Linked DNA regions of Homo sapiens. The protein of the gene in region 1 interacts with the protein of each later gene in a pairwise test. Each region holds a gene or a part of one and is shown in the gene's direction. Other genes may lie near its edges. The genes, in order: DLG2, SERPINB13, PLEKHA2 and KDELR1.

Evidence for each region.
Region 2: the proteins of DLG2 (region 1) and SERPINB13 interact in binary tests that used the Homo sapiens proteins (3 or more experiments, as listed by UniProt).
Region 3: the proteins of DLG2 (region 1) and PLEKHA2 interact in binary tests that used the Homo sapiens proteins (3 or more experiments, as listed by UniProt).
Region 4: the proteins of DLG2 (region 1) and KDELR1 interact in binary tests that used the Homo sapiens proteins (3 or more experiments, as listed by UniProt).

What each region holds. Positions count from the first base shown.
Region 1 is NC_000011.10:83,468,338-83,475,361, reverse strand, and holds part of DLG2 (disks large homolog 2), read left to right. Parts: intron 1-2,584; coding exon 2,585-2,635; intron 2,636-3,634; coding exon 3,635-3,736; intron 3,737-5,988; coding exon 5,989-6,161; intron 6,162-7,024. UniProt on the Homo sapiens protein: Required for perception of chronic pain through NMDA receptor signaling. Regulates surface expression of NMDA receptors in dorsal horn neurons of the spinal cord.
Region 2 is NC_000018.10:63,583,252-63,590,346, forward strand, and holds the start of SERPINB13 (serpin B13), read left to right. Parts: upstream 1-4,091; 5' UTR 4,092-4,199; intron 4,200-5,399; 5' UTR 5,400-5,416; coding exon 5,417-5,581; intron 5,582-6,404; coding exon 6,405-6,464; coding exon of another isoform or gene 6,465-6,491; intron 6,492-7,095. UniProt on the Homo sapiens protein: May play a role in the proliferation or differentiation of keratinocytes.
Region 3 is NC_000008.11:38,904,343-38,911,366, forward strand, and holds part of PLEKHA2 (pleckstrin homology domain-containing family A member 2), read left to right. Parts: intron 1-7,024. UniProt on the Homo sapiens protein: Binds specifically to phosphatidylinositol 3,4-diphosphate (PtdIns3,4P2), but not to other phosphoinositides. May recruit other proteins to the plasma membrane.
Region 4 is NC_000019.10:48,388,548-48,396,024, reverse strand, and holds the start of KDELR1 (ER lumen protein-retaining receptor 1), read left to right. Parts: upstream 1-4,473; 5' UTR 4,474-4,666; coding exon 4,667-4,757; intron 4,758-5,500; coding exon 5,501-5,601; intron 5,602-6,313; coding exon 6,314-6,472; intron 6,473-7,477. UniProt on the Homo sapiens protein: Receptor for the C-terminal sequence motif K-D-E-L that is present on endoplasmic reticulum resident proteins and that mediates their recycling from the Golgi back to the endoplasmic reticulum.

The sequences.
Region 1 (7,024 bases):
AAAGCCAGTGGGTATGAAAGCCCCTCAAGGCCCGCAAAGTGCCACAAAGACATGAATTTTCTCTCCTTCATCACAGTGGCTTTTTCTCTTTCCCTTTGTCTCTTCCTCATTACCCATAGGGCTTTTCATTCTTGGACATGGAAGTAAAAATTAGTTTAAGATGCTGAATTCACAGCAATTATGTCATGCCCACCTCCACGGGTTTCCCCACAGGCTTCCTGGGTATTACACAGTACCTGATTGCCACAAGGTCTTGAGAATTGGGGTGGCCCGGACATAAGGGATGCTGCCATTGCTGTCTACCAACACTACTGCTCTGAACCAGAACCAGAACCAGTGCCTTTCATAGAAAAGTAAACCAAGAAGTGATGGATAGACAGAGATAGAGAACTCTTGAACAAAATTAATCAAAGCTATGCTTTGCCCTAGTTGTCTGAATCGCAATCATACACACTGACATCAAATATCTTATTAAAGATTTGCCTTTAGAACGTTCCATCAGAATGATTTGCAAAGCCATTGGGAAGAGATTTTTATGGGAACTTGATGTGCTCTATTTATTTAGAGAAAACGATGCTTTCCAAAGTTAAATGACCATATTGACAGAAACACAAAATAGAACCTACCGTTGGCCTCATCACTCATCCTGTTTCCCATGACTGAAATCAGAATGCAAATTTGTTGACATCTTTCTTTATGTTAAGCACTCAATGGGGCACTGGAGACATGGTGATGAATAAAACTCAGTTCTCGCCTTTATGAAACTCCCAGCCTAATAAGGAGGTCCAAGAGTTACCTGACATTTAAAGCTTTTGTTATCCCATGGTCAGAATTCTTCCCTTGCACATTAATTGTTGAAGATTTCCCCTGTAAAGTTATAGTCTAAAATTGCAATGTTAGTCTACGATGCTTCTATCATTAAAACTATACTTTCTCCCCAAGAATTTTTACACTTCTTTAATTGACCCACAGCATTTTCCTGATGAAGTAATACTAAACTAAAACCTTGAATGCGTATACCCTCTACATCGCTCAGGCTTTAGATAACTGGGGGTTAGTAATCAATCACCTTCATGTTTTTTGGCCTAGGCTCTGTACATTTCAGTAGTTTATTCAAAGGGAATCATTCTTTTCCTGAGTACAAGAAATAGTGAATCTGACTCCTCACTGACCAAACCCCTGACCAATGTGGCAGAGTCCCCTGAACACTTCTGGGGTGGCCATGGGTACATACCACTTAGGAGGAGCATCAAGGTCCACTCTCTGTACCCTTAAGAAGTAGCTTGGCATGGTGGCGCCATTCTGAGCCCAGGCCCTCCTTGGGACTGAGATAAGATATGACTTCAGCCTGAGGCCATTTCTCACACTTGAAAAAGTAAGACACTCCTATCCCCATCCCATTCCAGCTACCCAGCCTCCAAGGAAGTCATCCAACTTCGCAGCTATACCCACATATTGCTCAATTTCCCCAAATCAGTCTCATTATCAAAACAGTCGATCATATTAACTCTTCTTATGAAATTACCTCTCTTTCTGTGGTGCTGTGGCTGTTGAAGGAGGAAAACCTGGCATTGATAGACTATGAATGTGCTTCAGGGGTGGGTGGTGAGGATATACAGCAAAGGTGAATTGCCCTTTGGTTTCAGAAGTTACCTCATATTCCACTTCTGCTCCACTATTTCTTCTAGTAGACAGAAAGTTCTTTTCAACAGCCCTAACCTATTGCTGTTCCAAAGGTTAGTCAATGCAAAAAAAAATGCAGACACTTCCGGGTTTGCAGGTGAAATTGAGCTAATCCTCTGACCAATTAATTCATCAATTATATAAAATAGATGATTGAAAAAATAAATGGCAAAAACCAATTTACTTTCTATGGTTATTTGTTGACTTGAGGTCCACCCTGAGTCAGAAGGCTTGTAGCAGATGACATTGGAGGGGCTGACATTTTACTACTGTGTCTTCCTTAGTTCTCTATCTGAAGTTTCAACGCACAGTTTAGCAGCAATTATAACCAATGATGTAGGACACACCTCAATTTTTGATCTTCATTAATTGACCCACAGCATTTTCCTGACGAATTAATATTAGAGTAAAACCCTGAGTGTCCTGATGAAGTTTTTATATCATAAATGAAATAAGCATATACTTGCTTTTGAACAGTGTGCTTCTTGGGGAAATAAAATAGAAGATGAAATAAAAGGTACAGCAATTCTGATTATGTAGCAGCCATCTATTGAATTGGACCCTTTCCTTGAACTAAATGGCTTCCTTTTAAGTAGTAATGCTTGGTGTAGAGGCCATGGCATTCCATTCTCAATGCCAGACAGAAAGAAGTCTCACAGGTCATTGCCCTGCAGCAAATAGCTAGCAACCAGTTATTACTTAGAGTTATGACTGTGAAAATCTGATACTAAAATGGTGCTAAAGAGTTTTATGAGGATGAAGTTATTTTTGAATGGTTCAAGGAGAAAGAGCAAGGAGAATTAACTCTGAGCTGTGTCTGTTTCCTGTGTTTCAGAGCAGGGCTTGTCTCTGTAATATATGACTGTTAGTTCACTGTGGTTTTCTTTCCTTCTCTTCTCAGGAGGACAAGAAGACCTCATTCTTTCCTATGAGCCTGTTACAAGGCAGGAAAGTAAGTTTCCCAGCACGCTTTCATTCCTAATTTCTGGGCCATAAGAGGTGACATCATTGAAGGAGGGAAAGAGTGAAGGACTAAGGAGAATAAACTCGGCTTAATGCTCTGTTGTCTTGAGACCGTACCTTACTCTTACGCTGTCTCTCACTTTCTCTCTCTTTGACCCTATCACCAAACAGACAACTTCCTGCTGAGTATGGGCACTAATAGCACCTAAGAGAAGGATGCAGCCCTCCAGATGAGTGGTCCTCAATGGGAAGGAACACATTCAAATTACCTAAAGAGCACTAGCTACGAGACTGGTGAATAAATTCTCCTGAGAGACTGATGTCAGCTCAGTATTGAGAATGACTTTCTAGCAGATCTGCCTAAGATGTAGGCTATCTGTAAGCTGCTGCTTTTTCCTGGAGGCATTTATACAGAGGCTAATTGCTACTGACAAGGATACTGCAGAGAGAATTCAAGCATCAGATGGGGACTTGTACCCAATGAACTCTCAGGTTCCTTCTAATCCCAGATACAAGGAAATCTAGAAACTGTAGCAAAGTATAGAGAGTATTTTGATCTGGGGAAAAGAAATCATGAAAACATAAGATGTTATTACTACTAACAATTACTTTTTATAGTCATATCTAAACAATAGCCAAACAGCTGGTTTGGATTCTTTTTTCTCCCACTCAGTTGACTAAATTCAGTTGTTTTGACATTATGTAGGCAGAGCCAGAGAGTAAGCAAAACTCCTCCAAATGTTTCTTTTCATCAACAGATACTGCAATTGCCTTTCCCTGCTAGTAGATTCCAGAAAGTAGGCACTGCCAATCTCCTGAGTGTTAAACATCAATTTCCCTATGCAAGGCTGTATGAGTAATTTATCCAGTGAAGTAATGCCCTTAGCATCTCTTACTGTCTGGCAATTAAGAATCACCCTTGCAGGACAGTTTTGCAGTTGTTTCCAACTCTTTCTCTTTACCTACATCTTCCTTTCCCATTCTGCAGTAAACTACACCCGGCCGGTGATTATCCTGGGGCCCATGAAGGATCGGATCAATGACGACTTGATATCTGAATTCCCTGATAAATTTGGCTCCTGTGTGCCTCGTAAGTGTCATTTTTCTTTCCTCTAGGAAAAACAAAAAGAGCTTGGATTTCTTTATGAGATGGTAAAATGTAATTCCATCCTCCAGTAGTCTCTCCAGTAATTCAAATACCAACCATTTCCGATTAGCTGAGTGCCTTATTTAATTTATTTGCCTAACACTTTTCATTTATGCTGCCGTGTGTCATTCTGTATTTAATAAAAATAATAATGTTTTCTCTAAACTGATTGTAGCCCCTTAAAAGGCAGGATGAATTTTTGTGGCCCCCAACCATTTAAAACAGCATAGGATTTATGATAGGCATCAGTATGTTTTCATAGATTGATCAAAATGCCACTGAAACATTATTTTTTATAGGATGGAAGAGATCGGAAACAAAGCCATATATTAAAATCCTCTCAGGATGACTTAGGGCCATATGTCAATCCCAAAACCCAATAGGCTTTCCCATGTTGACAGTCCCAGGTTTAGGGAGGGTGAAGACAAGAAAATGTGTAACACTTCAATTTGACCTCTAGGCCATTACAGACTTTAAACTACTTTCTTCTCATTATAGATTATCATCAGGCTTCTGGTCCCTCTGATTGTAGCCTTATTAGATTCTAACTGCTCTGCCTCTTCCCCTCCCCACCCCTACCATACTTTCTCCACTCATTCACCCCGTCTACACCCCGACTCTGTCAAACAGAAATGCATGCAGACCTTCTACGTATGTAGACAGGTCCATCAGGAAATTTTAATTTATTAGATAATGGAGCTCTTACATCTGATACCAACAAATATTTCTCTTCCATTCTATGTGTTTTAAGCCTGATGCTTTCAAGTGTCTCTAACATTCCAGTACTGCAAATTTTACATGAGATACTTAAGAATAGCAGGAATTGTATGTGTCCAGTACATGGCCAAAAGACTAGGATGATTGCTGTATCTCATGAAACAATTCCCAGCAAGGGCTCTGGGAAGAGATCCTGCCATAGAACATATCCTGAGAAAGTCTTCAGACAGGAAGGAGCAAATGAAACTCCAGGTCGTTTACAGCAAGCTTCCAGCTTGCTCCTCCACTTTTGAGAGAAAGAAAACAGAAGGTACTTAAGCATTCTTTCTGCTTTCCCTTTCACCTTGCATATTCTCTCTTTTTTGAATTAATAGAACCATTTTGTGATAGTCAATAGATGTTCATTGTACAAAACTTCAAAAACACTAAAAAGAAAGTTAAACGAGAAAATTAGAAGTATACAAAATCCCACACAATACCCAGAGATAACATCATTGTTAATATTTTTGTACATTTCCATCTATTCTTTCTATGCATGCATTTTTTCTCTGTGATGATTTTTTTGCTTATTTAAAATTTTATATAACTATTTCAAATGATTATTATATCCCAATTAATCATTCTTTATGAACATTTTGGTTTTTCCCTATTTTTCACTATTATGAATTGTGACAAAAATATCATCGTAATTGTGTTATAATTATTACTTATAAAATAATATAATGAATATCTTTAAGGATAAATCTGTATCTGAAGTTTTGATCATTTTTAAAAACATATTTCTAGGAAAAAATAAGTGAGTCAAAGATTAAAAATATTTTAACAGCTTTTATTCATATTGCTAGATTGCTTTCCCCTTCTCTTCTTACCAAAAAATTTAGGTGAAATGGTTAGAGTTGCTGATTTTTAGTCCTATCTAACTGTGATTATCTTATTTTATATATGTTGAGAGTCTGAATTTTATGGTCCTTTATAGAATGTTAAGTTTTTGTTCTGACAGGTGATAATTTACTGACACAGCAGCTTCTTCCATTTGTGACATGGTTTTAGACTTTGTGAAGATGGGTGTAGAGTAAGTCTAGAGTAACCTTTTAAAATGTGGCCTTTCTGGGATCTCCATGGGTTCTGACTCAACTCCCGTGTCTTCTAGCACCATGTGATGTCTAAACTCTCCATTTGGAAATGGCCTCTAGGTAGAGAGGTGGGGTGAATGCTCTCTCATATGTTTCTCTTTTCTCAAAGATTACAGCCCTGTACTTCCTGTTGTCTGATATCTGAAAACAGTTGTTTCATATATTTTGTCCAGTTTTTTAGTTGCTTATGGTGGGAGGGTAAGACTAGTACCTGTTACTATGTCATATTTCTTCATACTACATATTTCTACATATCAATGTTGAGGATGTGGTGGAGAATATAGGTGTAAAGCAAGTTTATGGGTATAAATGCACCTTAATTTTATCATTTTTTGTTTTATAAAGATACTACGAGGCCAAAGCGAGACTACGAGGTGGATGGCAGAGACTATCACTTTGTCATTTCCAGAGAACAAATGGAGAAAGATATCCAAGAGCACAAGTTTATAGAAGCCGGCCAGTACAATGACAATTTATATGGAACCAGTGTGCAGTCTGTGAGATTTGTAGCAGAAAGAGTATGTTCACCAATCTTCTTACACCTCCCCTGAAGAAGGTTTCTAGGTTGCAAACTGCATTTTTTTTTTTTTTTGGTCATTACTCTTTCTTGATTGCAATTGTAAATTTTGATTTAATAATTTAAAACATCCAAGCAGAGAATCACCTTAGAGCAATGTCATTAATCTTTGTTCTAATTTCAATAAAGTATTCTCACTGACTTGGAAAAAGTAGGAAGAGGGCTTTGTCTTTGACTCACTATCTGAGGCCCCAATACACAACCTTGATTTTATTAAGGCAGGTTTACTACTTTAGTTGTAAACCAAGGGGATAGCATTCCTGAATTATTTTGTTAGAGGAAGTTATTTTTTTTCTCTCTCTCTGAAAACTTGACATCCTCATGGTAGAAGAGAAGATAGATGAGAAGGGCTGCCCAGCCTTTTGCTCGCAGAAGTTCTAGCTTAGAGGAGGTGTAGATGCTGCTATTATCTTTTTGCTGGTAACTTCAGGGGCATGGAAAAGAGAAGAATGTTCAAGAGAGGGTACCATAGGAAGGCACCTGGGTGTGGCTACACAATCTGCCTACAGAGGGATCCTATTTCCTGTGAACACAGAGAACCAGTATCATAGGAGAAGATATTTGTTGGGTTGATTTGATTTGCCATGACCTTTCTCAATGTACCGCTAAAGAATTAAGTAATTTTGATGTCTATCTAAGAATACACTAAGAAGTTGCATCTATTTTCCTCCCTCTCAAAAGTTCAGTTCTATCAACTAAATGAATACTGGTTCTAGTCAAACTGTCCTGGATAATTGCACCTATTTTCCTCTTTGTTCATGTTGTTAACTTGAAATGTTCTGACTGGTGAATAATCAACCAGCA
Region 2 (7,095 bases), on another chromosome or scaffold:
ATTTTTCTGGGCTTCTGTTCTGATCTATCCTTTGCCAAAAACCATTCTGACAATTAATAATAAACCTTGCTATCTGACAGAGCAGGTATTATCTCTTCCTCCTTCTCTTTCAACAGTGTCATGGCTGTTGTTAGCCCTTGGCTATTTCATATAAATTTGGAATCAGCTGGCCAATTTTTTGAAAAAATGAGCTTCCTGAGATTTTGATTGAGATTGCAGTGATTAATTTTGAGAAAATTGACATCCTTACAATATTGAGTCTTTTAAATCACAAATAAAATATACCCCTCTATTTACTCAGTCTTCTTAATTTCTCTAAATTATGTTTAATCTTTTTCTATATGGAGTCTTAAACATCTTTCATATTTACTAGTTACGTGATGCTTTTTTCATTATCTTAAAACAATTGACATAAAATTATATGTATTTATCACATACAAGGTGTTTTGAAGTATAGAACATTGCATAATGACCAAATCTAGCTAATTAACATAGTATTACCTCACATACCTTATTATTATTATTATTTTTGAGATGGAGTCTGGCTCTGTCGCCCTGGCTGGAGTGCAGTGGTGCTATCTCGGCTCACTGCAACCTCCACTTCTTTGGTTCATGCAATTCTCCTGCCTCAGCCTCCCGAGTAGCTGGGATTACAGGTGCATGCCATCACGTCCAGCTAATTTTTGTATTTTCAGTAGAGACGGGGTTTTGCTATGTTGGCCAGACTGGTCTCTAACTCCTGAACCCAGCTGATCTGCCAGCCTCGGCCTCCCAAAGTGCTGGATTACAGGTATGAGCCACCATGCCCAGCCTCACATAGCTTTTTTATACTCTTTTAAATAATATATTAAAAATGTTTCTAACTGTGTGTTGCTAGTATATTAAAAACACTTGAGTTTTTATATTGACCTTGTAGTCAGCAATCTTGCTAAACTCACTTTTTAATTCTCATAACATTTACCTCAATTCCTCTGTGAATGATTCTATTTTTCTTTTTAAATTATCTTACCTTTTAAATAATTATCTAATTCATCAGTTAATTAATTGCTTTATTGCACTTGTCAGGGTCTCTGGTTCAATTTTGAGTGGAAGCAGCGGCGGTGAACATGCTTGTTTTGTTTTTCATCACAAAGAGAAAACTGGTTCTCTCTCTCCTTTGTCTCTCTCCCCGTGATTTCTTTCTATTAACTATTGAAGGACATGTAAGATGATCATACCGCTTGCTCATTATGTAAAGATGAAAAATTTTCCCATTTAACATATTAATTCTAAAGAGTCCCGATCTAAACCCCAAAAGTGTTTTTCATAGGTCTTGATAAACTAATTAAAAATTTTATCTAAAGAGAATATATGCAAGGTTGCAAATAAATTTTTGGAAAGCAAAAATAATGAGGGCTTGGGCTAGATATCACAACACTTTTGTCATAGGTGAGGCACCCTAGAAGCAGAGCTAAAGACAGGGATTTTTCAGGTAATTTTTGGGAAAAGCGTGATGGGGAGCATGCTTGTTTGAAAGAAGCAGAACAAGGCAAGGGGAAATGTTAATCATGTGGTTTCTGCTAAAGACTGGCTTCAGTCTAATCTTGTGGGGGAGGTCTGGAGGAGAAGTGGCACTATAAAGTTAGTCTTACTCAGGCAGCTGTCTTTTTTTTTCTTTTTCTTTTTTTTTTTTTTTTGAGGTGGAGTTTCGCTCTTGCTGCCCAGGCTGGAGTGCAATGGCGTGATCTCAGCTCACTCCAAACCCCACCTCCTGGGTTCCAGCGATTCTCTTGCCCCACCCTCCTGAGTAACTGGGATTACAGACATGTGCCACCACGCCCGGCTAATTTTTGTATTTTCAGTAGAGACAGGGTTTCACCATGTTGGTCAGGCTGGTCTTGAACTCTTGACCTTAGGTGATCCACCCGCCTTGCCTCCTTAAGTGCTGGGATTACAAACGTGAGCCACCGCGCCCAGCCAGGGGCTGTCTTTTTATGCCCTTATGCCAGTGAGTCATGCCTGAGGTGTGCCCTGGCACGGGGGATGGAGTGGTACCTGGCTTCCCCCGTAGGCAGCTCTCTTTTAGCCGAGAAAAGGGCATCTGTGAATTATAAGGGAAAACAACAACTGGGTAACAGGCATGCTGGTAGGTTAAGGAAATCTGGTGGGAACATCGGCAGCATCCACTACGAGATTACATGCTTGGAGAAGAAAAATATTACAAGTCAGTATCAGTAACAGACACACAGAAGTTGGAACAAAACTATGAGCTATGGAACAGGGTTGGGAACCTATCAATACTCTGCTTCAGGGGATAACTTTCTTCTCCTCACTTGTTAGCATAGAAATCATTTTTTAAATGGTTCTTAATCATCAACATATATTCCACCTCTGGGGCAGTTTTGATCCTAGAAAGAAGAGATGGATAAAACAGAACAGGGAGGAGTCCTGTGATAAGAGGTTGGGAAGGCGTTGAAAATTAGGTTTAGAGAGAATAAGGATGAGAATCTGTCACCAGATGGAGGTGCTTGAGTGTTAAACAAGAGCAGTTCCTGGTGTGAGTGGGCCACTATAAAAGAGGGAAGGTGAAGGTCCGAGAAGTGAGAGGCGCTGGCAACAGGAATGGTGAAGTGGTACAGGGTGGCGGTAGCAGCTGGGGTGGACAGGAAGACCATATGCAGAGTCACGGAGGGACCTGTGGTTGGGGACAGAGCAGCACAGCGTGATGGTCTAAGTTTCCAAAGGGGAGCATTGAAGGTGACTGAAGGAAGAAAGACTTGGAAGAAGAGGGAGTGCGAGGGAGAATAGGAATGGTGACTTTGCTTTCCCAAGATATGAGTGGCCGTTCCCAGAAAAGACTATGGGATGTAGTAGTCCTCAGGACATGCCAGGTTTCCCGGTGAAAGCAGGTGGTAGAGCAAAAGCTTTAGCAAAAAGCAGAAGGCCTGTGGAAATGGCTGGGCAATAGAACAGGAAGTCTAGGGGCCACAGAGAAAGAAATAAGAAGATATAAATGGATAGGGATATTAAAACATAAAGCATTATGGCCGACTCAGAGATTTTATGCCATTTTAAAAAACTAACATTTCCATTTCACTGGCATCCAGGGTTCACTAAGTGTTAATTCTTTCTAAACCTTACTCAATTTGCAAGATTCTCAGTGCCTATTAAAAAGCAAATCAACTAAATGTGGCTTTGAGTTTGCTTAAAGAGCAGCAATCAAAATATTTTGAAAAAAGTAAATTGTGAGTATGGAGATTGGAACACACATGACCCATATGCCCTTCGAGCCTGCGTATCTAGGGAGGTGTTCCTCTAGGCAGAAGGAAGAGCTAAGACACCCTTCTAGGAGCTGCTGCCCAGCAACGATGGCAAATCTCCACGCCCTTTACTGAAGATTAAAGCTAAGACTAATCCAAGCACAGTTTCTTTTAATGAACTGGTAGGGCCAGTAGAAATGCTCCAGGGTTGGCAGGAAAAACTGGAATCTGGGGGTGTAATTTCCTATTGAGTTTTTTTGGTAGTGTTGTTTTCCTGAAATCAGTGAGGATATTGAGTGCTTATGAATTATTGGCATTAGACACAGTACCTGGTACATAATAGACTTGATAAATGTTTATTGAATGAATTAAAATGAGATATTTTACAATTAATGGATGGAATACTTGAGAATAATAGGTGTGTGTGTGTATGTGTGTGTGCGTGTGTGTGTGTGCGCATGCTCGCTTGTGTGTGGCTGCCTACCCAAACTTTTCTTGTTCTTTTTTCTTGTTCCTTTGTAGCAAGATAGTTTTCTTTCATTTTCTTCCTGGCATTTGGCACTCCTAAATAATGCAAATGCAAAAATAACTCTGTTACAGAGAATGACTTGTCAGGACACAGCTCTGTCCATCTGTGGTAAGTAAAGTATGCATTTAATGTATGTGTTCATCAGGCTATACACCTTTGGTTCCCAGCGTTGGCTGTACATTGTAATCACCTGCGGTGATAAAAATTCTGATGCCTGGTTTCCACTCGAGAGATGCTGACTCAGTTGGTCTGGGGTGGGGCTTGGGCATAGATTTTTTTTAAAGTTCCAAGGAGATTTTAAGGTGCACGCAAGGTGGAAAACCACTGCTGAAGCAGATGTGGAGAACTATAAATTAAGGATCCCAGCTACTTAATTGACTTATGCTTCCTAGTTCGTTGCCCAGCCACCACCGTCTCTCCAAAAACCCGAGGTAAGTTCTTATTTTGGCTCCAATTTAAGACCTCTGTATTTTGAGAACAATGATGTTTGTTGTTTGAAAGAATTACTTTTATTTTGCATAGACTTTCTGGAGGTAGTTTTATTTAATTCAGTTCCAACATGGCCATGACAATGTATCTTCTTTGACAGTAAATTAATCCATTTTATTTCTGAGTTAACCTGTAAAGGATCTCTGCAAGGAAACCTGAGGTTGAAATGAAAGCTTTGATATCAGATGTGGGATGCCTTAGCGGGGATGAGCCCTTGAGGGCAAAAGGCCCCAAAGTATGTGGGCTTTAAAAAACTTTATTTTTCATTAATCTTATTCTTGTTTTAGGATTCCTCCTAAAGCCTTTACTTACTAGTTTTAAAGTAGTTGGTAATGAAGCAAACATAAAAACAGTTCTACCTATTTATTTTTGGCAAATATTAATTGCTCTTTAAAAACTATTTTTGTGAAATGACAAAAGTAATGCAAGCTCATGTACAAGCCTAAAACAATACAGAAAAGTATAAAAAAGAAAACCCTTTCATCTCCACCTAATAATTCATGACCAGAGATATGTGGTTTCTGCTTCAGAAAAATTCAGCCCAGAGTCAAGTTTGTATGCAGTTAGGGAAAGGGGTTTAAGAGATTTAATCAATCCTGTCACTCTCTGGGCTGAATTTTGAATCAATTGAGAAATAGTATCAGATAAGGATTCAAGTCTCGGCTTAATTATTGCTAAGGTTGGATCTGAGAGCACTGTTTGAACTTGAGGCCCGTGGAGATTCTTGTGCCTACCCCCCTGCCTTATCATGGGCCCCACATCTGGACAAACTGGTGTCGCCTGGACAAGGGCTGGGTCTACCTGGGGAAGCTTCCATGAAGAGGAGGCTGTGGAGAGGCAGAGACAGGCAGGGTCAGACAGAGAGCAAGAGAATAAAGCCATTAAAACATTAACCCTGCTCCGCGGGGAAATAAGAACTGAGCACCACCGGATGACGGAAGACTCCAGTAGATTGATGGATGTCTCCCAGCAAGAGAAGGCCAAGAGAGGACGTGAGAAGCAGGCAGCAGCGACCTTTCACCAAAAGGGTGGAAATCCCTGTATTCCGGATCGATGCAAGAAGAGGAATAGAAGCAGAAAGGATTCCCCTGACACAGAGTAATTCAAATGTTCAGTTTTGATTGTTGTTCTTGCTATTCTAGGTCTCGCTAAAATCATCATGGATTCACTTGGCGCCGTCAGCACTCGACTTGGGTTTGATCTTTTCAAAGAGCTGAAGAAAACAAATGATGGCAACATCTTCTTTTCCCCTGTGGGCATCTTGACTGCAATTGGCATGGTCCTCCTGGGGACCCGAGGAGCCACCGCTTCCCAGTTGGAGGAGGTTGGGCGCAGTCAGGGGGCTTCCTTGTTTCCTATGCACAAATTCATTTGGCGGGGGGGTTGTCAGCCCTCTTGCATTATCTTAAAAATACGCTCTTCTTGACCTGTGGACCAGGAAACAGAGACTTTCAAGACAAGGAGCAATTTCAGGTCTATCAGGAAAGCCCTCTTCCTTTTCCAAATACCATCTCGCCACCTGCTCCCAGATGCTTGAAATTTTTTTGAGTAGAGACTGGTTGCGTAACCTTGTCCAAGTACTTATGGAAAAAGTGACATAATCCCCACAAGGGTAAAAATGACACATCCAAGATGAACACAGGAACACATAAGCCAATACGAGTTCCTTAGAAAAAAATTAGAGGTATTTTTAGTAAAGAAGGGGATTCACCATGTTGGCCAGGCTAGTCTTGAACTCCTGACCTCAGGTGATCCACACGCCTTGGCCTCCCAAAGTGCTGGGATTACAGGCATGAGCTTAGCTGGGTGTGGTGGCAGGTGCTTATAATCCCAGCTACTCGGAAGGCTGAGGCAGAAGAATCGCTTGAATCCAGGAACAGAGGTTTCAGTGAGCCAAGATCATGCCACTTCACTCCAACCTGGCCAAAAGAGCAAAACTCCATCACACACACACACACACACACACACACACACACACACACGAAAAATCAGAGGTAAACGCAGACCTTTTTCTGATTTTGCAAGGAGATAATGTCACCTCATATACCACCGAGGTTTCTTTCAGAAGCGTCCACTCTCCCCTGACTGATTCTGTGTGAGGTTTTCTCTTCTCTGAGCACCACAGTAATATTTTCTATCTCTTCCAGGTGTTTCACTCTGAAAAAGAGACGAAGAGCTCAAGAATAAAGGCTGAAGAAAAAGAGGTGGTAAGAATAAAGGCTGAAGGAAAAGAGGTGGGGAGATGTGTTTTACAAACTTCAGTAGAGTTGCATTTTAGGTGTGGGGTCTCTGGGGAAAAGGACTGAGAAAGGCATGAAAGCAATATTGTTGCTTTACTATTAAGCAATAATAATCACCATAGACAAATATTGTTGTAAGGATTATACAATAATAATAACCCCTTAATATTGAGAAGAGACCTTAGGTGTAATGGACAATACCGCTATGATAGAACTGGTAAAGGCTAATAGACAGAAAAGTTCCCATAGCAGAGTGGATGGGTTTTGGAGTTAAACAGACTTAGGTCCAAGTCCTGGCTCAGTCACTTAAGAGCGATGCTACTTTGGGCAAGTTATTTATCTTCTTTCAGCCTCTGTAAAGTCCGCAGTAGGGGCATCTGGCAACTGAGCCAGTGGTGGTGGTGGTAGTAGCAGTAGGTGATATTATTGCTAAACTCCACTCATATTTTTAACCCCGTGCTGATGTTGTATTTAAAAAATTATTACAGGCCCAATGACTTCCTGAGGTCTTTTCCAGCTCCAGTGTTCCTGTATTCGCCATCCAAAGGAGAGTCTACTCAAATATGGGAAAGGAATAAGCCCATTAGGTCGGGGCTAG
Region 3 (7,024 bases), on another chromosome or scaffold:
CTTTGGCCCTGTGGTGTGCCTTTTGCCCACAGTGCCTGGTCAGCTGAGATGAAGAGGATGGGAAGCTGGGTCCTCTTGTCCTTATGCTCTTGAGAAGCACTGCAGTTAAAGTGCGAAGGCTGGGACTCAAATTTGGCTGGCCCCTTGCAAAGCAGCTCTCTGCTGGTATGATTGCCCATGGCTGGATCAAGAGGCAGCTTGCCTTGGAAACTGACGAGCATGTCTAGGTTTCTGTTAACTCTCAGGGTAGCCTGGCCAAGAAGGAGTCAGCACATTGCCTGGACTTTTTGTTTTAAACCTCCTGGAGAATTTTTAGAGATGTAAAATGTGGTGTTTCTTGGAGTAGAGGGAAGAGTGAGGGAAGCTGATGCCTTTCCTCGTGAGAGGAATCCCAGAGTCGCAGCTTTTTCATTGACATTTGCTCACTGGAGTTAGAGGGATGGAGGTGCGCATGCAGCAGCTGCCTGCCCAGTGTTAAGCAACTTTGCAGTAGTAATGATGACCATGTACTCCTTGTTAGGCACCCACACATGCAGTTTAACAACAACAATATTTACCCAATGTCTGGGTGTCCAGCACTTTTCACACATTATTTCATTTAATCCTCACAGCAGCCTTTGAAGTAGGTAAAGCAATTATCTCCATTTTGCAGATTAGGAAATAGACCCTGAAGACTTAAGCAACTTTTCTGCGTTTGAATCCAGGTCTGTCTGGCTCAAGACTCATGCTCTTTCCCTTCACTCCACTGCATGGATGGGATGGGTAACTGAAATCAGCACACCCTTTTGAATGGTCATCTTCTTGCAAAAGTTCCCTCAAAAATACTCATATTGGCTGGATGCCGTGGCTCATCTCTGTAATCCCAGGGCTTTGGGAGGCTGAGGTGGGGGGGATCACTTGAGGCTAAGAGTTTAAGACCAGCCTGGGGAACATAGCGAGACCCCATCTCTACAAAAAATTGAAAAATTAGCTAGCTGTAGTAGTGTGCGCCTGTAGTCCCAGCTACTCGGGAGGCTATAGCAGGAGGATTTTTTGAACTCAGGAGTTTGAGGTTATAGTGAGCTGTGATCGCACCACTGCACTCCAGCCTGGGCACCAGAGCGAGACCCTGCCTCTAAAAAAAAAAAATTTTTTTTAAATACTCATACTGATTATTGTCACCTGCACATCCTCCTTACCACACCCAGCCCCTCCTCCTTCCCTAAATCAAGAGACAGAAGCACATGTCTTTAGAGGAACAGAGCTAGGCCATTTACGCTCCCCCCTCACCACTCCCCTGCCCCACCCCCAGCACTTAGCAAAAGGCCAGTAGGTTGGAGAAATTATGTTTTTTGTGTTTTTGCTTTTTTTTTTTTTTTTTGAGACAGAGTCTCGCCCTGTCGCCCATGCTGGAGTGCAGTGGCGCTATCTCGGCTCACTGCAACCTCCACCTCACAGGTTCAAGCAATTTTCCTGCTTCAGCCTCCCAAGTAGCTGGGTCTACAGGCGCATGCCACCACGCCCAGCTAATTTTTTGTATTTTTAGCAGAGACAGGGTTTCACTGTGTTAGCCAGGATGGTCTCCATCTCCTGACCTCGTGATCCACCCACCTTGGACTCCCAAAGTGCTGGGATTTCAGGCGTGAGCCACTGTGCCCGGCCAGGAGAAATGGTGTTTTCTTTTCATTCTCTTAACTGCCCATGTATTAGTACCCTTTGGTTGACATCGTCCATTATAAAATGAAGATTAGAGTTCCAGGACTCGCAGCTGTTGTTAGGAAGCCCAATAGTGAAACCGAATTCATTGTGGGGAAACTTTCACAATTCTGAAAGTTGGAGATCTCAGCTTTTATAGGCTGTAAAGCCAGTATGGCTGCGTGCCTGCACTGGTGCCCTCTCTGGTGGAGATGGTCTGATGAGCCTTCAGCCCCGGGCAGGCTTTTGTTTCCTGCAGGCTCCAACAACCACATTTTCTTTGAATGTAGATGAGGCTGCTGTGAAGAGAGGTCATGAGTGTCTGAAATATTTTGTTGTTTTTGGCATCTTTATTGCAGTGGTATCAATTTCCAGTTACTCCTGCCTTACACCCCTCCCCCCATATTTTTTCAAAAATTCCTTCTTGAGTATCTCTTGCTCTCTACTCCAAGTTCTAGGGTCCAGTGGGGATTGGGCTATCTCAGGGTCAAGCCAGCACCCTGTCTGATCCGCCCCCCGCCATTCCTGTACATGTTTGCATTCCTCACCCTGCACTTCCTCTGGGAACTTGTTCTCAGTACGTTCCCTTCTCTCGCACTTTATTCTCCCGCCTTACACTATTTGGAATCTGCTATCATGACAGTTTCAAAATGCGGCCATGTTAGAGCAGTAGGAAGTGGAGGCTTCCACACTTCCTAAGTTATAATCTTTGACCCATTCTCAGGGATGTGTTCTCAAATAGCCATGCTTGCATTTTGCTGTTGTTTTTACTGGGTTTGTACATTGCGAAGGCTCTGGTTGGCTTCACAATATATCTTGATGTATGCTGCAAATCTGAACATATATGAACTCTGTTGACATGGTCCGTATGTATTCTAGCAACAGGTGAGTGACTGCTCCATATCTCTATACCTCAGTTCCTGTCTGCTGTATTTCATACAGTCCTCTTTGAGATCTCTGATGTTATTTCCCAAAAAACTTTCTCCTGTTACCCAGTTGAGCCATTTCTGGTTGGTAGAACCTCAGTCACTACTGAAGCTGCTGCCTGCAGCTTCTGCCCTGGTAGGGGTAACAGGACAGAAGATGTACGTACCACACGCCCCACTCCTTGTCAAAAAGCACCTTTTGAATATTTTCTGGAGCAAAATCCCAGAAATTCCTTGTCCTGCTAACACAGAATGTGAAAGAAACATCTCTAAATTTTAAAAATGAGTAATTTTTTTCTCATTTTTGAACTGAGGTTGTAGTAATTTTGTACTTCAGCCAATACCACTGAAGGCTTTATCTCTGTTATCACTTTCTCTTATTATTTATCTCAAAAATGCTAAAGTAGTCAGGCAGAGTCTCCCATATTTCCCTCTATTCTTTCCTCTGTCTCCAAATTATGTTAGCCATCTTCAAAATCAAGAGGGCTATTCAGAAAACCACAGCTCTCATTACTTAATACCTTTATAGCTTTTCTTTAAAATAAATCTATCTGGCTGGGCACAGTGGCTCATGCCTATAATCCCAGCACTTTGGGAGGCTGAGGCCAGAGGATCACTTGAGCCTAGGAGTTTGAGACCAGCCTGGGCAACCTACAAAAAATACAAAAATTAGCTGGGTATGGTGGTGCACGCCTGTAGTCCCAGCCACTCAGGAGGCTGAGGTGGGAGGATCGCATGAGCCCAGGAGGTGGAGGCTGCATTGAGCCATCATTGTGCCACTGTACTCCAGACTGGGAGACAGAGTGAGACCATATCTCAAAAAAAAAAAAAAATTAATCTATTCATCTTTTCACTCATCCAGCCAGCCACTTATTTTATGTATGTATGTATGTATGTATGTATGTATGTATGTATGTATGTATTTTTGAGACAGGGTTTCACTCCTGTCACCCAGGCTGGAGTGCAATGGTGTGAGACATTGGCTCAACTGCAACCTCCACCTCCTGGGCTCAAGAGATTCTCCTGCCCTAGCCTCCCCAATAGTTGTGACTATAGGTGCACACCACCTCACCTGACACTTATTTTAAAATGTCAGTCCTATCTCCCAAGTTTCAAGAAGGAAAACTCCACTGGGCGTTCCTGTCAGGGTCCCCATTTCCTTTTCCCAGAGCACTTTTCAAGGTACAGCTCATGTGTTGTAGGAATAGAGGAATAGCAGCATCGACTTGGGACTGAGTATTCTGTTGGCCCGAGGACCTGGGTGCTTCTTAAGACCAGAGAGCAAGGGACCACACCAGCAGGAGAAAGAGGGAAAGGCGCTCAGAGGATGTTGCCATACGAAGTAAGAAACCCAAACAGCTTGGAGGGTGCTAAAGCCCTCTGGGCAGGTAGATATCTGGCTCTTGGATGATTGTGAGATGTGAAACATTTATTTATTAGGTTTAGGTCTTTAAAACACCAAAAAGTTCCAAGAGAGCTATAATTTAGGGAAGGCCTTGTTTGTTTGTGGACTCTGGAGAATTGAGAAATTTATTATCAGATTCAAAACTTATACACTTGGGTGGGAATCTGTGTGGAATTAAATAGCTTTCTCTCCTGCTAAATAAAGTAACACATGCTCCCTGTAGAAGATTTGGAAAAATATGTACAAGTAAATGAAATTCCACTCATAGCCCGTAGATAATAACTTACTGTTTTGGTGACTATATATCTGGTTTTAAAACAGACCGTATATAGGAATATAAGAATAATATTTGGATGATTGAGATCATATTATGTACCATTTCATATCTTTTAAAAAACTTATGATGTGGTGAGTTTTCCCCTCATTCATTAAAAATAACCTGAAAACAGAGTTTTTGAATTATTGTGTAATATTTCCTTGTGAGTATGTCCTGTTGTTTATTTAATTATTTTCTGGGCCAGGCGCGGTGGCTCACGCCTGTAATCCCAGCACTTTGGGAGTCCAAGGTGGGTGGATCATGATGTCAGGAGATCGAGACCATCCTGGCCAACATGGTGAAACCCCATCTCTACTAAAAATACAAAAATCAGCTGGGCGTGGTGGTGCACGCCTGTAGTCCCAGCTACTCAGGAGGCTGAGGCAGGAGAATAGCTTGAACCTGGGAGGCGGAGGTTGCAGTGAGCCGAGATGGCGCCACTGCACTCCAACCTGGGCGACAGAGCGAGACTCTGTCTCAAAAAAAAAAAAAAGAATTATTTTCTAACCATTGTGTTGTTCAGGACATTACCAGTTGTTTGTTACTATAAATTCTATTGCAGTTGCCATCTTTTTACTTTAATCTTTCTTTGCATCTTTGTTGATTGACTTGGATGGAATCCTAGAAGTAGAATCACTGGGTCAAAGGGTATGAACATTTTTTGCTTTCTTGTTATATATATACAACTAAATTGCTTTCCAGAAAGGTTCATAGTCCTGTCCTGGGTGTATAAGAATCCTAGGAACATTTTTCAAGTAGACAACATCTGTTTTAAGCAGTGATCTTTCCCTTTCAGCCCCTCTATGCCTCTGTGTCCCATCTGGGCTATGTGCTATTTTCTCAGGGTCTGGGTCCCAGCTGTCTCTTGTATATTATGAGCCTTGCAAAGTTATCCATTGCCTCAGTTCCTCGGGGCAATTTTTTTCTTGGCTTGAATCTCCACTGGTGGAACCTAAGGCATGGGAATGGGCAGTAGAGAGATATTTGGGGCTGCAATACCTCCCAGTGCCCCCCATTTCATTCTCTGGCAGGCAGCCATTGACTTCCTTCTCATGAGCTGCTTCTAGTCAACTGGCAGGTGTCGGCCAGGAATCTCTCAGTTTAATTGCCATTTAACACACTTTCTGCCACTGATTAATGGGTGACTCCATGCAAACTCACTTTCTTTCCCCAAGTTTCACTTGTATCATAAATACTTATTTTCATTCGCAGTACATACTTAAGAACTTATATTCTACTTAGAAATCTGGATCATATAAAACTTCCCACTTTTTGTTTTTCTTTTCATTAAAATACTTTTTTTTTTTTTTTGAGATGGAGTCTCACTCTGTCACCCAGGCTGGAGTGCCATGGTGTGATCTCGGCTCACTGCAGCCTCCACTTCCAGGGCTCAAGTGATCCTCCTACCTCAGCCTCCTGAGTAGCTGGGACCACAGGCATGCACTACCATGCCCGGCTAATTTTTGTATTTTTGGTACAGATGAGGTTTTGCCATGTTGCCCAGGCTGGTCTCAAACTCTTGGGCTCAAGTGATCAGCCCGCCTTGGCCTCCCGAAGTGCTGGGATTACAGGCATGAGCCACCATGCCTAGCCTGAAATACAGTTTTTAGTTACTGGAATAATATGAGGCTACGTCTTGGTTTGGTTTGGTGTTTGTTTGTGAGAGACAGAGAAGAGAGGGAGAGAGAGAATGAAGGAGAGAGGGAGAGAAGGACAGGGAGGGAGACAGAAAGAGAGGAATTCTGTATGCACATACTTTTGATTTGCTTTTAATGAAGTTCAGGAAAGTAGATGAAATAGGAAACAAACATTTAAAAAACATTCAACCTCACTAGATGTCATTATGTATTTGAAACCACCAATAGTTTAAAATAATGAGAACATTCAATATATGTAAGATTATAGTGATGATAACAATATATTGCTGGTTGCAACATAGATAACATCTTTTTAGAAAACAATTTTGTAAAAGGACTCAAGAATTATGAAAGATCATAGCCTGTGATCTCATATTATTACTTGGAATTTATGCTCTTTCCATGTAAAAGAAGAAATAAAGCATGAAAATACAAATTTTAGCCTTATGTATAACAGTGAAAAATTGGATATAACCTTCAATTTAATTGTAGAGAAATGGTTATGTAAATTATAGTAAAACCAGTCCATTAATGTTATGCAACCATTAGAAACGATTATAAAGACTATGTAGCAACATGGAAAATGCTTATGACATCATCTTAAGTTTTAAAAAGGCCAATTATGTGGATAGGGACATGAAAAAGCATGCAAATGTGAAAATTGTTGGCTGGAGTGATTGTTAAAATAATTCCAGCATTGTTATATTATGATTTTTGCACTAAACCCAGAAAACACGAGGGAGGTTTGGCTAGGGAAGATAGGGTGCTGAGTGGGTTGGATAGAGGCCCCTTCTCTTACAAATACCCTGTGTGCTTTGTTAGCTGTGTGTTGTGAAGGCCAGGAAGCTACTTGCCAGATAGTTTCATTACGGTATGAGAGCAAAGGTGAAGGGACCATCTAGAGACAGGGGTATCTAGAGCTCTAACCCAGCATGAACACTTTCTTTTTTTTTTGAGAGGGAGTCTCACTCTGTCACCCAGGCTGGGGTGCAGTGGCATGATCTCGGCTCACTGCAACCTCCGCCTCCCAGGTTCAAGCAATTCTCCTGTCTTAGTCTCCCGAATA
Region 4 (7,477 bases), on another chromosome or scaffold:
CGTAAAGACCCAGGAGTCCTTCTGGCAGCCCCTTCCTCCCCCAGGCCTTGGGAGTCTGGGCATTCGGTCCTGTTCTTTCCCAGGACCCAGGAGGCCAGGCCCCTCCTGCCCCAAGACTCTGGAACTCCAGTGCCCAGCCTCCTCTCCCTGCAGGAACCAAGAGTCCAGGTCCCCAGCTCCCCTCTTCCCCCAAGGACCCAGGAGTCCGGGTTCCGGCTCCTGTCCTCCCTTAAGGATCCCCTTTTGGTTTCAAACCCTATCCTTCCCAACATCCTGGGTGCCCCCCCACCGAGCTCTGGCCTCCCTAGTCACCCCACTTAGATCCTGTACATAGCACAGCCTGTCCCCAAGCGGGGAGGAGGAGGAGGGTGCCAGAAATTCCTAGGGTGTCCCTGTCTTCATTGCCCCCCACAGCATCCAACAGAGAAGAGAGGAGCGGCCACTTCGATCAACAGCTCCCCCCACAACCTCGAGTTGTGCTGCAGACGGCATCCCGTTTCCTCCCCCCTCACCTCCCAACACACACACACAACATCGGTCTCTCCCCACCCGAATCCTGATGCTTGGAAGAGGCTGGAAGGGTGTTCCAGAACCTTGAGGAAGGGGTGGGAGCTTGGGGCGAGGGGTGCTGGGGGCCTGGATGCCCTCAAGGTCCTTGGCGGGGGTATTAATAGCAGACTCATAGCTCTGACATGGGAGGGGAGAGCGAGAGGAGAGAGGGAGAGGACCGGCTCGCGATGGGGGGACTGATGCAGGGAGGGGGGTACAGGGAGAAGGTGAGATAGAGAGATGGAGGCACAGGGATATGGGGCATCAGGTATGTGGGGATGGGGAGAGGGAGCCAAGTGTCAGAGAAATGGGGGCGTGAAAGGTCTGAGGTGTAGGGACTCAGGAAAAAGGGGCTCAGAGAGGGAGAGAGAGAGGGTGGAGGAGAGTCCCTGAGGGACAGGGGAGCTAGGTGGGGGTCAAGACCCCTGCCCACCGTTCAAACCCCCTCCCTCCACGAGGCTTCTTGCCAACTTCCTCTGTCCTAGATTTGGGGGTCCACATTCCCACCACCATCCCTGCATCCCCTGTCCCCGCCTTACCTTTTCATGACCCTGTTCTGTTGGGGGGATGGCGGGGGGGCCAGGACCGGAACCCGGCGTCCAGCGACCCCAAGATTCCGAGGAGGGCTCAGAGAGCCGATGTCGGGGGGCAGGCCCCGGGGCGGCGGCAGTGGTGGTGGCGGCAGCAGCGGCAGCCCGGACCTCCTGTCTGTCCCTGGCTCCGTCTCTCCTTCCTCTTCCTTGGTCCTGTCCTGCCCTGTCTCTCCCCCAAGGTTGCGGCCACCTGGACTAGGCGAGGACGTGGCTACACATGTTGCTCTGGAAGTTGGGCCCCGGACATTGCAGAGGCTGTCGGGGTGTCCTCTTGCCGCCCCGACCCCGTGGGGATCCCCCCTCCGCCCACCCGGGGTGCCCCCCTCTGCCGCTTCAGCCCCGGCTCCTCCCCCCTTTCCATGTGTCCAGTCCCGCCTCTCCCTGGCTCACTCGCACCCCCGCTTTGTGCCCTCAGCCCCCCCACCCCCCCTTCCAGCGTCTGTGTCTATCTGTCTGTCTGGGTCACCTCTGAAGCTAGTGGCTGGTGTGTGCGTGTGAGGAGCGGGAGATTGCCTGCTTGGGGAACTGCTTGCCCCTTCCTCGCTTGGCCACCTCTAGACCCCCCCTTGACTCCCCCACTCTCAAACACAGGCAGAAACACACATACACTCACGCACACACGCACGATCTCACTTCCCTGGGATTCCCCCTCAACACCCCCAGAGCTTGAGGAGGGACACACACACAGACACACACACACAGAGTGGGGGGTCTAATGGGGGCCAGGCTGCCACTGCTGATAGGGGCTGTTTGGACAGACAGGAGGACACAGGCAGCCGGGGACGCCCAGACGCCTGGCCGGACGCAGGCAGGAGGCACAGAACCCAGGTACACACCATCCATCTGGGTTTGGGGGGGCCGGGGGGAAGGAGCGGGAGCCCCACGACACCCAGGCAGGCAGCTCAGGGTCGGTACAGACAGACAGACCCCTCCCTCCCTCCGCCGCCGCAGCGCTTACAGACACACCCCCCCTCCACCAGCCAGCCCCAGACACCCGGACACACAGATCCTCACCGGGCAGATGGCAGACGCTCGAGAGACCCCTGGGGGCCGGGCCGACCTACCCAGGCAACACCCCCAGCAGGCACCGGTGGCCGAGGGAGGCTGCGGGAGGCTGCGGGCGAGGGTGGCGGCGGCGGCCGCGGCTTGGAGGAGCTGGAGCGGGAGGGACTCACACACTCGCTGTGTTCTCGCACACACACACTCACTCGGGATGCGATTAACATTCAGTCCCCGTCTGCCACTGCCGGGAGACCCACAGCCCCCCCTCCTGGCCTCCCTGGGGACCCCTTCTCCTGCCAGGCTTGGGGAGGGGGCCGCCCCCCACCCCTAGCTACCAGCCTCTGCCTTCCTCCTGGGACAAGGGAGTGAGGGGCTGAAAATAAAAAGGGAGGAAGAAGTCAGGCTGGGGACAGGCAGGCAGGGACTCAGAACCCGGTATGGAGACACCAGCTTCAGAGCTAGACTCCAGGGCTGGGGGTTGCTGCCCTCTGCCCCCGCCCTGCCTTGAGGCTCTGGAAACAGGAGGCCTTTCCCTGACTTCAGTGTTCGCCACACTAAGACCCAAGCTGTGGCTTTTATTGCCCCAGAAGGCCAGGCCTGAAAACCAGGTCTCGACCCTGGTCCCAGGAGTCCCACCCCCCAGCCCCTCCTCCCTCAGACCCAGGAGTCCCCTTCTCTACTGGGACCCAGGAATTTGGGGACCGCCTCCAAGTCGGAGTCTCTTTTAAGGACTCAGTCATCCCGACTCTCCCCCGTACAAGCCACCCTCAGGGACCCAAGACTCGTGGATGTCACCCTTGGGCACCCCGTCCTTCCAGCCCTCTGAAGAAATCAACACGCCTGCACCCCTTCTTTTATTGAGGGACCCTGGCCTCCATCATCTGTGGGTACCCCATCATCCGGAAGGGAAGCCACGTCTGTCCCCTCATAGATGCAGGAGTCCAGACCACAGGCTGTTCCCCGGGGGTCCCACACCCAGATGCCCAGCATTCCCCTCCTGCTAGAGGGCTGGGCCCGGCACTTTTATAAAGCCACCCGTGGGGCTCTGGGGTAGAGCGTGGGGCAGGACACCGGGGCCTCTGAGGGTGGAAGAGGGTGTGTGTGTGTGGGCAGGGCAGAAACTCTGGAGCAGGGGGGAAGCCAGGGCCAGGGGCTCCTGAGGTAGTTTGGGTCAGAGTTTTGGCCTTGAGCCTCCTGGGTGAGGCTCCTGTTTCCTTCATCCTCAAGGTCTGGGAGAACAGGGTGAGGTGCACATTCCTGAAAAAGAAGAGAATCAGGGCCTAAATCTGTGGGTCGTAAAGGGAGAAACTGTAGATCTAGATTCTTAAGGTTAGGATGTTTGATCCATAAGATGGTGGGGGTGGGACCCTAAGTTCCAAGGAACAGCGTCCTAGGAGGGAAAAGGGCTGGGGCCCTGAACTCCTGGGTCTGAGGGAGGAGGGGCTGGGGCCCTGGACCCCTGGGTCTGAGGGAGGAGGGGCTGGGGCCCTGGACCCCTGGGTCTGAGGGAGGAGGGGCTGGGGCCCTGGACCCCTGGGTCTGAGGGAGGAGGGGCTGGGGATCTGGACTCCTGGGTCTGAGGGAGGAGGTGCTGGGGGTCTGGACTCCTGGGTCTGAGGGAGGAAGGGCTGGGGGCCTGGACTCCTGGATCTGGGGGAGGAGGGTCTGGGGGCCTGGAGTCCTGGGTCTGAGGGAGGAGGCTGGGGGCCTGGACTCCTGGGTCTGAGGGAGGAGGCTGGGGGCCTGGACTCCTGGGTCTGAGCGAGGAGGAGCTGGGCCTGGACTCCTGGATCTGAGGGAGGAGGGGCTGGGGGTCTGGACTTCTGGGTCTGAGGGAGGAGAGGCTGGGGGTCTGGACTCCTGGGTCTGAGGGAGGAGGGGCTGGGGACCCAGACTTCTGGGTTTGACGAACGGGCTGGGGCCTTGAGTCCTGGGTCTAGGGGAGGAAGTAGGTGGGGTATCTTTCTTGTCTTCTGGGGGATTGGAGTTAGAGTGCCTGAAAGCTGCAAAAGCTAGCAGCTGAGCCTCCGGGTCCCTGCAGGATTTTTCAAGCTCAGAGGGCAGTCTCTACATCCCTGCAAGGGCTGAGGCTGGTGTACTGGACTGCGTCTCTTCCAGAGACACAGACTGCCTGGGCGAACCGGTGCTGGATTTGGCACTTTCCGAACCCTGCGACCCTCCCAAGTTCCTATGGGGCAGCTTTGGGGGTGCGTTTAGCGCCGCCACGGCAAAGCAGGAGGTGGGCGATAGGGGGCGCCGGGGATCCAGGCCCCGCCCTCGGGGGCGGAGCCTCTCCTCCCGGACTCCTCCCCCTCTCGCTCTCCTCCCTCTTCCCGGCTCCAGCTCCGCCGCCAGCTCCAGCCTTTGCTCCCCCTCCCAAAGTCCCCTCCCCGGAGCGGAGCGCACCTAGGGTCCCTCTTCCGTCCCCCCAGCCCAGCTACCCGTTCAGACCAGCAGCCTCGGGGGGCACCCCCCCGCCAGCCTGCCTCCCTCCCGCTCAGCCCTGCCAGGGTTCCCCAGCCATGAATCTCTTCCGATTCCTGGGAGACCTCTCCCACCTCCTCGCCATCATCTTGCTACTGCTCAAAATCTGGAAGTCCCGCTCGTGCGCCGGTGAGAGGCCCACCAGGGCTGGCGAAGGAGAGAGATTGCGGGCGGGGGTTGGGGGACGTCGCAGGACTCAGGAAGGGTTTGGGGGCACTAGGGGCACAGGTTCCACCCCCACTGCTTGCTGGGGATCTCTCTTCTAGGTTCTGGGTCTCCAGGGGATCAGCTCCCTTCCCCAGACTGGCGGGGGTGCATACAGTTTCATGTGAATGGCTTTAGGCCCCCAATTCAGCCACCCCCAGCCCCAATCTGGGCAGCCCGAGGGTTCATGGACCGGGAACAGGGAACCATGGCAGGCGGGGAGGTGGCTGTGAGTTGGTGACGTGGACCGTGGCGGCCAGGAAGGGAACGGGAGGGAGGTGACCGGATCCGGGGCCTGAGGTCAGGGAAGGTCCTCCCTAGGCCTCACCTCAGGTCCAGACTGCGGGAGGACCCTGAGGGGCCAGGGGTAGCCATGAGGCCTAGTCTGGGACGGAGCCTCGGGCTGGAGTAGCTTCGGGGGCCTGGGCTGCCCCCTGGCTGTGGTCCGTGGGAAAGGGCCCTGCTCAGGCGGGGCGGGCTGGGGAGGCCTCCGGGGACAGCTGCACTCCAGAGCTGCCTCCAGGCTGGTCCCGGGCGCCCTGCCTTAGTTTATTGCCCATGCAGCCCACCCCCAGCTTCCTCTCTCCTTCTGTCTGTCTGTCTGTCTGTCTGTCTCTCTCTCTCTCTCTGTCTCTCTCTCTCTCTCTTTCTCTGTCTCTGGACCACAGGAATTTCAGGGAAGAGCCAGGTCCTGTTTGCTGTGGTGTTCACTGCCCGATATCTGGACCTCTTCACCAACTACATCTCACTCTACAACACGTGTATGAAGGTAGAGGCTCCACCCCACCTCTCTGGCCCCCACTGAGGCAGAGGAGCCGGGTGTGGGTCCCAGACTCCTAGGTCTGAGGGAGGAGGGGCTGGGGGCCTGGACTCCTGGGTCTGAGGGAGGAGGGGCCGGGGGCCTGGACTCTTGGGTCTGAGGGAAGAAGGGACTGAGGCCTGGACTCCTGGGTCTGAGGGAGGAGGGGTTGGGGGTCTGGACTCCTGGGTCTGAGGGAGGAGGGGCCGGGGGCCTGGACTTTTGGGTCTGAGGGAGGAAGGGACTGGGGCCTGGACTCCTGGGTCTGAGGGAGGAGGGGCTGGGCCTGGACTCTTGGGTCTGAGGGAGGAGGGGCTGGGCCTGGACTCCTGGATCTGAGGGAGGAGGGAATGGGGCCCTGGACTCCTGGGTCTGAGGGAGGAGGGGCTGGGGGCCTGGACTCCAGGGTCTGAGGGAGGAGGGGTTGGGGGCCTGGACTCCTGGGTCTGAGGGAGGAGGGGCTGGGGGCTTGGACTCCTGGATCTGAGGGAGGAGGGGTTGGGGGCCTGGACTCCTGGGTCTGAGGGAGGAGGGGCTGGGGGCTTGGACTCCTGGGTCTGAGGGAGGAGGGGTTGGGGGTCTGGACTCCTGCGTCTGAGGGAGGGGCCTGGACTCCGGGCTCTGAGCCTACTGGGGCACAGGCCTGTGAGTTGAGGCCCCTTCTCATCATCCCCCTCCTCAGGTGGTCTACATAGCCTGCTCCTTCACCACGGTCTGGTTGATTTATAGCAAGTTCAAAGCTACTTACGATGGGAACCATGACACGTTCAGAGTGGAGTTCCTGGTCGTTCCCACAGCCATTCTGGCGTTCCTGGTCAATCATGACTTCACCCCTCTGGAGGTAGGCGCCTTGCTGTGACTCCTTATTTGGGGGGATGGTTGTGGCAGAGTAGCTATGACAGGAGACCCTCTCACAGGCTTCCTTCTGCAGGGTGTGCCCAAACTGCCTTATTTTAGGATGCATAAGTTCAGTGCATGGGCTCTGGGGTCAGAGGAAATTAACACAACAGCAGCAAGACTCGCTATGTGTCAGTCACTACCCTAAGCATTTCACCTACTTACTTTTCTCAGCAGCCCCACTTTACAGATGAGGAAACTGAGGCTTAGGGATTCTTTTTTTTCTGGAGACAAAGTCTCGCTCTGTTGCCCAGACTGGAGTGCAGTGGCATGATCTCGGCTCACTGCAACCCCCGCCTCCCAGGTTCAAGCAATTATCCTACCTCAGCCTCCCGAGTAGTTGGGAAGACAGGTGCACATCACCATGCTCTGCTAATTTTTGTATTTTTAGTCCAGACAGGGTTTCACATGTTGACCAGGCTGGTCTTGAACTCCTGGGCTCAAATAATCTGCCTGTCTTGGCCTCCCAAAGTGCTGGGATTACAGGCGTGAGCCACCATTCCTGGCCCAGCCTTCTTGAATTTGAATTCCAAATCTGCTAGTTTCTTTTTTCTTTCTTTCTTTCCTTCTTTCTTTCTTTCTTTCCTTTCTTCCTTTCTTCCTTCCTTTCTTTCTTCCTTCCTTCCTTTCTTTCTTCCTTTCCTTCTTCCTTTCCTCCTTCCTTTCTTCCTTTCCTCCTTCCTTCCTTCCTTTCTTTCTCTTTCTTTCCTTTCTTTCTTTCTTCCTTTCTTTCCTTTCTTTCTTCTTTCCTTCCTTTCTTCCTTTCTTCCTTTTCTTCCTTTTCTTCCTTTCTTTCTTTTTTCCTTTCTCTTTCGACAAAGTCTCGCTCGGTTGCCCAGACTGGAGGCAGTGGCATGATTCTGGCTCACTGCAACCTCCACCTCCCAGGTTCAAGCGATTCTCCTGCCTCAGCCTCCCGAGTAGCTGAGATTGCAGATGCCCACCACCA